3 linked regions of the Homo sapiens genome follow. The protein of the gene in region 1 purifies or fractionates together with the protein of each later gene. This does not show direct contact. Each region holds a gene or a part of one and is shown on either strand. Other genes may lie near its edges. The genes, in order: STYX, CAP1 and ARB2A.

The links.
Region 2: the proteins of STYX (region 1) and CAP1 purify together in Homo sapiens (affinity purification with mass spectrometry; 2 studies listed by BioGRID and IntAct, with this or other methods). This does not show direct contact.
Region 3: the proteins of STYX (region 1) and ARB2A purify together in Homo sapiens (affinity purification with mass spectrometry; 2 studies listed by BioGRID and IntAct, with this or other methods). This does not show direct contact.

Annotation. Positions count from the first base shown.
Region 1 is NC_000014.9:52,733,042-52,736,796, reverse strand, and holds part of STYX (serine/threonine/tyrosine-interacting protein), read right to left. Parts: intron 1,953-3,755; exon of another isoform or gene 1,919-1,952; intron 1-1,918. UniProt on the Homo sapiens protein: Catalytically inactive phosphatase. Acts as a nuclear anchor for MAPK1/MAPK3 (ERK1/ERK2). Modulates cell-fate decisions and cell migration by spatiotemporal regulation of MAPK1/MAPK3 (ERK1/ERK2).
Region 2 is NC_000001.11:40,057,595-40,061,349, forward strand, and holds part of CAP1 (adenylyl cyclase-associated protein 1), read left to right. Parts: intron 1-1,739; exon of another isoform or gene 1,740-1,742; 5' UTR 1,743-1,752; coding exon 1,753-1,864; intron 1,865-2,472; coding exon 2,473-2,576; intron 2,577-3,755. UniProt on the Homo sapiens protein: Directly regulates filament dynamics and has been implicated in a number of complex developmental and morphological processes, including mRNA localization and the establishment of cell polarity.
Region 3 is NC_000005.10:93,957,966-93,961,720, reverse strand, and holds part of ARB2A (cotranscriptional regulator ARB2A isoform 1 precursor), read left to right. Parts: intron 1-2,752; coding exon 2,753-2,944; intron 2,945-3,755. UniProt on the Homo sapiens protein: Plays a role in the regulation of alternative splicing, by interacting with AGO2 and CHD7. Seems to be required for stabilizing protein-protein interactions at the chromatin-spliceosome interface. May have hydrolase activity.

The sequences.
Region 1 (3,755 bases):
TAAACCTGACTGAACATTAGAATCATCTAGCTTCATTCAGATAAATTAAACTACAATAGGTGCTGGTAGGGTCCACGCATCAGTATTTTTAAAAAATTCCTTACTCTAGAGTAAGGGTTAAAAAGCACCATTCTAAATAAAGGAGCTAGAAAAGGAATCCTCAGCCATGTATGTTAAATAATTCCTATCTTTGATCCTGTACTACGGGATTCACAAGAAAAATGGAAAGGGAAACATGGAAAGTTGCTAAACTGCAATGGAAATAAATATTTCACTTTCTGTCAGAAGAGAAGATAAAACATTAACTTTTAAATTATAAAACCAATAGCCCCAGCTACAACCAATTTGCTTAAAAATTGGTACTATCAGCTACTCCTTCTTCCTAATATCTAAGCTCTCTTATGAAAGGTTCAGTCTAAATGGAAAATAGACAATGACCAAAAATTGTTAAATGTTACAAAGGTAAGTATTAAAGTACCAAGTGCCATAGTAGCTGGGGAATTGAACCAGTCTAGAGGATGAGGAAAGGAGTTAGAGAAACTGGCAAACAGGAAAAGCTTCTCTGAAGAAATGTTGCCTAAAGTGGGATCTAACCCAAGGGTAAGCAGTTAATTAGGTGAGGGTAAGGAAGGTGCTGGCAGCCAAGGCAGGGGAAAATAGCAAACATAAAGGCTCTGAAGGCGGGGGGTGGAAATTAAAGCATTCCAGGAACTGAGAGAAGATAAATATGGCTAGGGCTTACAGAGAAAGGAGCAAGAAGAGTAGCTCATAATGAGGTTAGAGAGGTATGCAGATGTCAGACCATACAGGACCCTGGAAATAATGTCAAGGGTTTAAATTTCATCTTCAAAACAATGGAAATTCATGAAAAAGTTTTAAACAAAAAAAGTAACAATCTTTTCACAAACTGACTGATCTAAATTTTTGTTAGCACTGTCCTATACAAAGAATACCAATATTTCAAGAAACGTGAAAGTAATATTCTTGTAGAGGTGACAGAATCATCAACCTATCATAGCTTGATCACATTAACATTAAAAGCATTCCCTGAACTCTCTGCTTGAATTCAGTTTTTATTAAATTTGGTCTGTAATTTGGATTTCCAGGTAGTGCTCCCTGTGTCAAAGAAACAATGCTGGCTGATCACTCTAACTACTTAAGACCATTTGACACTTTACATTATCTCACTGGAGATTAGAAAATTAACAGTGCTTATTAGTCAGTTTATTATGAATAACTATATGCTCCTATTTAATAGTTTATTTATGTGGCCCCTATGTATAGTTTTATCAGCCCAGAAAGTACCCTCTACCTGTGGAAATGTTCCTATGGTTTTGGTGGGAGGGCTACCAACAATAAACTTCACTCCTCTAGCCAAGGAATTAGGGATATGACCTAGATGGGGCCCCTCATTGTATCTGCCCTTTCCTGGCTACAGTGACTGATCCAAAGTGTGGGAACATGAATTAAATTGGGCAATTCCTCTAGATTTCAAACACAGAAGCTGGAAGTGTTCAGTTTTATTCCTCAATAACCAAGCTCATAAAGGTGTGACCCCAGATGGCCAAGCTTCACATCTTGGAGAAGCCAGAGAGAAAGCAGAGACTCCGAGAGAAAGTAGAGATAAGAACTCATGAGAGACAAAGGCAGTTCTGATGCTTTATAATACCTGGGTTTGGTCAAATCCTTGAAACTAGCTGCACCACTACCCTTCTGGATTTAATTACTTTTTTTTTTTTTGAGATGGAGTCTCGCTCTGTCTCCCAGGCTGGAGTGCAGTGGCTAGATCTCGGCTCACTGCAAGCTCCGCCTCCCGGGTTCATGCCATTCTCCTGCCTCAGCCTCCCAAGTAGCTGGGACTACAGGCGCCCGCCACCATACCTGGCTAATTTTTTTTTAAGTAGAGACGGGGTTTTACCGTGTTAGCCAGGATGGTCTTGATCTCCTGACCTCGTGATCCGTCCGCCTCGGCCTCCCAAAGTGCTGGGATTACAGGCGTGAGCCACCACGCCCGGCCGGATTTAATTACTTCTTCTTTTTCTTAAATTCGTTTTTGTTGCTTGCAACCAAAAGATACCAAACATGCAATATTAAGAAATACGGAACGAATTGGCTTTCAGCAGACAATACTTGCATCATTATCCACTAGCTTTAACCATTACCTCTGTCCCTGTGATATAATATGAAATACATGGTCTTTCTCTCCAGTTCCTGTCACAGTCCTCCTAAAACTCTTGGAATTTTCTAATAGGAGTGTCTTTGGTTATTTATGAGCCACTATTTTTGATCAAACCTGATTATGCTAATGAAGTGATTTAGGGTGGGGCCAGTCACCAGAAAGACCATGTGACAAGAGGGTTGAACTCTCAGCCTCACACACACACACACCTCTATGGGAGGGGATGGAGATGAAGTTCTATAAAAACCGTTGAATAAGATTTGTTGAGCTTCTGGATGAAAACACTGGAGGTGCTAGTGAGGCAGGTGAATAGGGTCTGGAGGCAGGGAATCTAAGGCTGTTTCACCCCGACTTCCCAGAACTAACTTGAAGGGAAAACCCTAACTTTCCACGCCTAAGTAACAAAAGGACCAGAGGCTACTCCCGTTGCAAACCACCTACCTTTTCTGCACAGTAGACGGGAAATTGGCTGTCCTCAACAAATCAGACTGACTGCGGGTGGAATCTTCGTTTGCAACTTTGTAACTTCACTCTAGCCACTGAATGGTCGCTGTCCACAACCAAGCGGACTGATGTGGGGGTGGGTCTGGCAACCAATCAGACCAATTGCAAGCCACCTCTTCATTTACATGAGGTGAGCATGGAATGGCCAATGGGAAAGTTCTAGGGGGTATTTGGACCCAAGAAGATTCGGTAAAGCAGCGGGGGTCGGGGGGGAGTGCTGCTAGGGCAGCTCCCACACTGTGGAGTGTACTTTTGTTTTCAATAAATCCCTGCTTTTGTTCTTTTGTTGCTTCATTCTTTCTTTGCTTGGAGTTTTGTCCAATTCTTTGTTCAAAACGCCAAGAACCTGGACAGCTTGCAATCATGACTCTACTGGTGACACTGGGATGGTGGTGTGCCCCTTCCCCCATACCTTGCCCTATTCATCTCTTCCTACTGGCTGTTCACTGATCTTTTGTAGTATCCTTTATAATAAACCCGTAAATGTACTTCCCTGAGTCCTGTAAGTCACTCTAGCAAGTTAACTGAACCAAGGAGGGAGTAACGGGAACCCTGATTTACAGTCAGTCAGGAGTGTATAGGTGACAACCTACTACTTGTGATTACCATCTGAGGTTGGGGGCAGCCTTGCGGGACTGAGCCATTAACCTGTGGGATCTGACTAACTTCAGGTACATATGTGTCAGAATTGAATTATGGGACATTCAGTTCATGCCTGCTGGAAAACTGCTTGGTATGGAAAAACCCCCACACATCTGGTAGCATAAAAAAAAGAGTGTGTTTTCAAGTCCCACACAGAAAAGACAGGTATATATTCCCAGCAAGAATTTATCAGTTTTGCAGGAATAAGGCATACATAATGATATACACAGTAACAGATTAAATGCAAAGTCCGGGAAAATTTTAAACTAGAATTTTTAAGATTAGGGCAGGGAAGAATTGAAGTGTATTAAAAAGAACAATGAATTAGGAGGCCGAGGTCCTTCTGTGTCTTGTGCTACTGTGTTGTTAATTTGGCACATCACTTATTTTCAGTAAGGTACAATTTCTTCACCTGGAATGTGGGACTCCT
Region 2 (3,755 bases), on another chromosome or scaffold:
GAGAATGGACAGAGACTATATTGTCTTCCTTACTTTATCTTGTGAGCTGCTTATCTCTTCCACAGGGAGGACAATGTGTTAAATTGAGATAATTCTGGCATGCTGTCATCTTTGGGGGAATCATAATTGCTGTTGTCATTTTAGGCAGCTTCAAGGGAGTTGAGTTCATTCAGCTTCAGTTACCTGAACTGAATTCAGTTGCCTGAATTGACGCTTTTGTGAAATGGAATCTTTCCAAGTCAAAGCTTGGATTGAAATTTCACTGACTGGTTTTTATGAGATCACTTAGGGTCTCAAATACTTTATGTAGAGGTGCATTGATCATATTTTACACTTATGTGTGACTTATGGGCAACTTTTAGCACCCTTATCCCTCTGGAGTTTTGGAATGCTATTTGTGAGGTTTATAACTTCATAAATATTTATTGAACATCTACTACCTGCCAGGTAGTAGTCTAGATGGTAGAGTATACAGTAAGGAACAAGCTATATAAGGTCCTTTCTCTGTTGGAGCTTACTTTCTTTGGGATATTAGACATTGAATTAGGCTATTTCAGATAAGATAGTACTTGTGAAAGATCTATAACAAATTCTTTTGGATGTGTCTAGTGTCCTTCCCTACTGCATGTCCAGATCTTTCTCATCTTCATTTGAAGGCTGGCTCAAATGGCAGCTTCTCCATCATATCCTTATCTGATCCTTCCAGCTGATATATTACTCCCCTCTTTGAAATCTCATGCCTCTCTATCAGCAACTTTCTTATGTCACCTTAACATTTTTTTCTATTTGTTTCATAGTTGTTAGTGCATATGTTAAGTCTCCCCATTAGACTATAAATTACTGAGGGCAGGCCGGGCACAGTGGCTCACGCCTGTAATCCTAGCACTTTGGGAGGCCAAGGCGGGTGGATTACTTGAGGTCAAGAGTTCAAGACCATCCTAGCCAACACAGTGAAACCCTGTCGCTACTAAAACTACAAAAAATTAGCTGGGCATGGTGGCGCACACCTATAACCCTAGCTACTTGGGAGGCAGGAGAATCCCTTGAACCCAACAGGGTGGAGCTTGCAGTGAGCTGAGATCCTGCCACTGCACTCCAGCCTGGGTGACATTGTAAGACTTTGTCTGAAAAAAAAAAAATTATTGAGGGAAGAGTAAACATCCTATTCATCTTGGTTTGGGATATTTCACATGCAGGCAGCAGGATGTTGTAGGAAAAAAACACACTGAACTTAGAACCAGAAGGATCAGATAAGGATATGATGGAGTACTGGCTTCTCTATTCACTGGCCGTGTGACTAGACAAGTCATTTAGCTTCACTGAAACTAAGTTTTCTATCTCTAAGCGTGTAGTAATCATCCTTCTATTCCTGAATAGTTGTCGGGAGGCTCAAACTGAGATAATGTATGTGACTATCCTTTGCAAATTCTAACTTTCTACACACAGTATCATAGTAAATATTGAGTATTTGAATGAGTAAGCATTTACTTTAGTGAACACCTTTTCCTGAGCAGTTCTCTTGCTTAATGAGGTCTTTTGATTTTGTAAATATGCTACTTTTTTATCTGATATTTTTGTATTGTTCCATTTTGCAGATGATATCTAATTTTATTAAATTATTCTGTTCCTGAGAATTGGCATCCTCTTCATCCACCTGGGGATGACCAGGAATTTTCTGTTTTTTTCTCTGTAGGTGCTATTTAATATTTAAATAACAAATGACATTTGATCTGTTTCAGCAGGTGGTCCATTATGGCTGACATGCAAAATCTGGTAGAAAGATTGGAGAGGGCAGTGGGCCGCCTGGAGGCAGTATCTCATACCTCTGACATGCACCGTGGGTATGCAGACAGTCCTTCAAAAGGTAAGCAGTCCACAGCCCAGCAGAATGCTTTCTTTGAGCGTCTTGGCCTGAAAATTTTCTATTATTCTCTCCTTTGGCGCTAACTTCCCAAAACTTAATCTAGAAAGTTTACCTTTTGTAATTTGTATTGCTGTGAACAGATAAGAGAGGAAATGACTTGTACAGGGAGGCCTGTGGTTAAGTTATTTTAACACAAGAACTTCCTGCTTGTGCAATATTTCCTGCTCTTTCTTTAGCAGAATGACTCCAATGTAAGTCAAATGACAAGTGATAATAAAATTCCTCTCTCCAAACAATTGGCAAATTGGACATTTTGCACATGCACCAGTTGGAACATAGAATGTTAGCACTAAAAAAAACCTTGGAGGATCATTTTGTTTATTTTCATTTTATAGATAAAGAAAATTAAGCTCAGAGAGGAAAAGGAATTTAGTCAGGGTCACACAACCAGTTAGTGGTGATACTGGACCTGGAACCCAGGTTTCCTTACTCCTGTTCTGTATCCTGTTGACTGTATTACCTTGCCTCCCCACTTTCATGTAGAAGCACGTTTTAAAGAAGCCTCCTTCTGATGCATGGCTGATTCTTTGTGGTGTGTTTGTCTTTAGCAGGAGCAGCTCCATATGTGCAGGCATTTGACTCGCTGCTTGCTGGTCCTGTGGCAGAGTACTTGAAGATCAGTAAAGAGATTGGGGGAGACGTGCAGAAACATGTAAGGATGTTTTGCCTTTTTCCCCTTCTTTTAAGGACTAACAGCTTTCTTCAGTCAGCCAAGGTCCTCATCCTTGGTTTAAGAGCTCCTTGAGAAGTTCCTCTTGGTTTGGGGCATTACACATGTTCTTTCTCTTTTGCCTGTACTGAGGAGTTCAGTCTAGCCACAGAAACGATTCCTCATTTTTTTCTAGGCCCCTTGCTTTTATCACGTATTTATACAGAAAGCTTGCTTGGTACATAAAATATGGTTCTGTTCATCTTTGTAGTGAAGAATATGCACCAGTTTGATCCCAACATATTACATAATCAAACCTACAGTGGCTTATTTAAAGGAGTCATTATCATGACTTAGCATTTATAAAACTATGCTTGATAGTTATTAGTTATGCTAATGTGGGTTATTTTCACACTTAACCCACAGCAAGAATATGAAGTAGGCAATGACAGGTGCCTTTCCTCCCACCTTCCTTTATGCCTCCTACGTCATCACCACCACCCCCCACCCCCACCCCACACTCACATATACATTCTACCTCTATTTTTGGGACCCAAAAACCTTCCTGCTAGCTCACCGAATTATAAACAGTAACCATGCTTGGGAACTTCTTCACCTAAACCTTTCTCGAAGACTGGTTGCTTGGCTTTTGGAAAATCTATTTTGAGCCTCTCAAATACCATCTGTTGCCAATGGTTTTAGCTCTAGAGAGTGGGACTGGGACTTTAATAAGGGTGTGGAGGCTTGCATTTTTACTTAATACAGTTCTGTAACATTTGAAAAAACTTTAAAACATTTATCATTTGTATTTTAAAAATGCAAATCCAGAAAAAATAGATTGCTTTCTTTGAATTTTTGTATTTTAATAGTGCTTACAGTCTCATGTTTCTTAAATTCTTTTGACTGCGAATGACCCTTAGAAAGAAAGAACATATTCGTAACTGAGATAAAAGTTTCACAAGATGATATTTATACTACTTCTGCTGTACTTTTTTTTTTTTTAACTTTTTATTTGGAAATAACTTGAAGTTGGTGCACTGCACTCATACTTTTGTTCCATTAAGCTCACTAAATTGATTTAATTATTTATTAATGGGTCATGGTATCTGGCATTTGAGAGATAGCTTTAATCTAAAGGAGTAAATACCTTGAGAATTTTCAGCAGAAATTTAGGCCTTTGCC
Region 3 (3,755 bases), on another chromosome or scaffold:
TTAAAATGTGATTCCCTTTTCCCTCTTTTTTCTTTTTTGAGACAGAGTCTCACTCTGTTGCACAAGCTAAGTGCTGTGGTGCAGTCATGGCTTAGTGCAGCCTTGACTTCCTGGCCTCAAGCAATTCTCCAGCCTCAGCTTGCCAAGTAGCTGGGACTACAGGTGCACACCACCACACCTAGCTAATTTTTGATTATTTGTAGAGACAGGGTCTCACTATGTTGCCCAGGTTGGTTTCGAACTCCTGGACTCAAGTGGTCCTTTATCGAGCAGCATTTTAATATAAAAAATACATTTTTATCATCTGAAAATAAGTTTCTTTCAGTTCTAAGTGATTACTGTGGACTTCAAAGTGCCAGTATTCCATTGCTTAAAAAATTGACTGAGTTTCTTGGTAACAGGGGACTTAGTCAAATAGGAAAAAAGAGACAGTGATCAGCACCTACTGGAATATCTGTACTACAGGTTTTTTCATGAAGGTGAATAGATATCCATCTCCATAGCCATTCCAGGATCCATTAAGGCCTCACTGACCTTAAGAGACACTTTTCTTTGTGCGTGTTTAGACATAGTGTTTGGTAATTGAGTGACTAGAAACCCCTGTGGCCTCTTTCTTGTTATACACTGACAGCTCTGCCTTTCAATTTTTTTATTTTGTTCTTATCATCATTACTTTTTTTTTAGGCTTCTTTAACTGAGCAATTCTCCTATTTTTATATAATGTTCCTAGGTAAAAGGGAATTTTTCTTCTTAGGTTTGGTTTTCCTGTGTCTGTCATCCACTTATCTTTCTGTGTGGCTGTAGTCATATTTATTGTCATCATTATACTTTGTTTACTCTGGACATAGCATGCAGGTGAAGCTAATATGATTGTGTTACACTTCATATCTCTCTTCCTGTATTTTTAGCTATTGCTAATAAAATTATAGTTATGTCATTTTAATTCTTTAACATTGTATAGCTCTTGTAAAATTCTCTATAATTATGTACTAGTTTAATCTTCAGTATATGCTTTCTGAACCAGGCAAGTATTATAACCATTTTAGAGGATCCATTATTTAGTTAAATGTCTTTTATCTAAAGGAAGTCACTGGTGAGGCTTGATAAGATTCCTCATTCCAAAAGTTTATTGTTTTTAATTACTGAGTGCCTACAATGTGCTAGGTTTTATTTTAGGTACTGAGACTATATAAGTGGATACAAACGAGAGAACTCTGTGCCTGCCTGGACTTACGTTCTAGTGGAGGGAGCAGGCCGTGAATAAACACATTTGCAAAAATGTAGAGTAAAGCATACAATATGTTAGATCTTGGTATGTGCCGTGGAGGAAAATAAAACAGGGAAGGGGACTATGGAATTCTCGGGACATGTTTGGAATTTTAAAAGTGGTAGTCAGGGAAGGCTTCAATGAAAAGGTGTTATTTCTTCTTTAAGACCTGTGTCCATGCTGCTCTTGCTGAAATAATTGCCATTTTTGCTGTGTTTGCACAAATGCCTAAGCCATCTCTTACTGAAACTAGCCTGATTGTTTTAGAAGTACAGATATTTTATTTTATTTTATTTTATTTTATTTTTCTCTTCCTAAGCGTAATGACTGGGAGTATTTAGAATCCAGGGCTTTTTTTGGGGGGGGGGGGGGCATCTAGAGTTTTTGTATACTTCCTATTTTGATAATTGTATGAACATATACAGTTGACAAAGTGAAGAGCTATTACGTTACACAATATGTGGATTGACCTTCTTTATGTAAGAGTACCAGCCACCAGAATGTCAACTTTCTGCTTGATCTGGCTATTGAAAGGCTTCCATTTCCAGTCACTCGCCAGTGCTGATGTGGTATACCACTCAGTGTGTCATGGCATATGTAACAAAAGGTTGGGAAGTTATCTCTTTCTAAAAGTGTTTTGTGTCTTTCAAATGTAAATCATACATCATATAGTTAACAATCTAAATATTAAGTACAATCAAAATGGATAAAAATATTTACTTTTTATTCTGTAAGTAACTAGTTTATAAAGTAAGTTCATTGGAGTACATAATGTGGCTTTGTAAAAATAATTGTTATATAATCCTGTGTTCACAATCTGAATGAAATTTGGAAGTCCATTTACATAGATCAGGTAAGAATAGAATAGATGGTTAGTTTTTAAATAGTTTCCTCTTCTTCCCCTTAAAAGTTTAGTGGTATTCCTGGCTGATATATGATTTTCCAATACGTCTATCTCCAATTTTAGTTTTCTATTTTTTATTATAGGTGCAATATATTTCTGTTATACAACTATAGACTTATAGTTGTGTGACCGTGGGCAACTTATTTAAACTCCCTAAGCCTCAATTTCTTCATCTATAAATCAATATAATAATAGTACCACCTAAATGGGTTGTTATTGAATGAGATAATGTTTTTACAACAGGTAGCATAGCAGCTAGACTATAGGAGGCACTAAAAAAGTAGTTATTTTTATTTACAATGATAATATAATACTAAATATACAATAATAATGAAGAGAAACATATTACCAATATTTTTTGTATTTTTATATTTAAATTACTATCATGTCTTGTCCCATCCAACTAATATATAATTGTTAACCTCTACTGAATATTTTAATTTTGTGTTAAAATTGTTTTTTACTTCTATAATTCTATAGTAACCATTTAATACTTTGTAACAGCCATTAGTTGTTTTTTCATTTATGTGTATGCCTGATCAGAAGACATTTATTTATTATTTAATTTTATTTAATTACAGGTAGATGCCACTGAGAGTGAACCAAAGAGTTTTATCTTTATGAGTGAGGATGCTTTGACAAATCCACAGAAACTGATGGTTTTAATTCATGGTAGTGGTGTTGTCAGGGCAGGGCAGTGGGCTAGAAGACTTATTATAAATGAAGATCTGGACAGTGGCACACAGATACCGTTTATTAAAAGAGCTGTGGCTGTAAGTACAATTTCCTGGGTTTTTTTTTTTGGCATTTTATAGTACTGTTTTATTATATGTTTTTATGTTTCTTCAAAAAGTATATCCTAAGCATAATCTTATCTTTGGGTTGTTATTATTTATTTTACTTGTATGAAAGATTATTCTGCATTATTTTGCAGTTACAAAGAAACACAAAGTGGCATCTTGAGCATACAAAGATTTAAATAATGTCTTTTGAGTGAATTATTTTTCTAAAATATTTTTAATCCTGTGAAATATGACAGGGTTAATATTTTCTAAAAATATTTTTAATCCTGTGAAATATCAATTATCAAACTATCAAATATTTATCAACATTATTGAAAATAACTTCTGACAAAAATATCATGACTGCTTTTGTAAACCTTTGCCTACCTAATTTGGTAAAGTTAGAAACTAAAGGAGATCTGCTACTTTGAATTAATCTCATATTATTTAAAGGAAGAGTTGGAATAACTAAATTTTTTTGTCGTTTCTTTAAAATGTTTTTTAGAGCCCACAAATAAAATGCTTTAAGCATGAGACATAGACATACAGAATGGCAAAATGTAATGTTTAATGAATACTTTATTCTTATTTGCATTCAAACTTTTTAGAAACTCCTATTTTTAAATTGTGTTCAAGGTTTCTTTTCTTGCAATAGTGAAATGTTTTTCTGACATAATATTGGCATATTTTAATGTTTGACTGCTTTTGTTTTACTATTGCATTCATAAGTTCCATAGTGAACAGCCCAATTTTGCAAAGTGTGAATTTCTTTCACATGAGTAGATTTTTTTTTTAGAAAAAC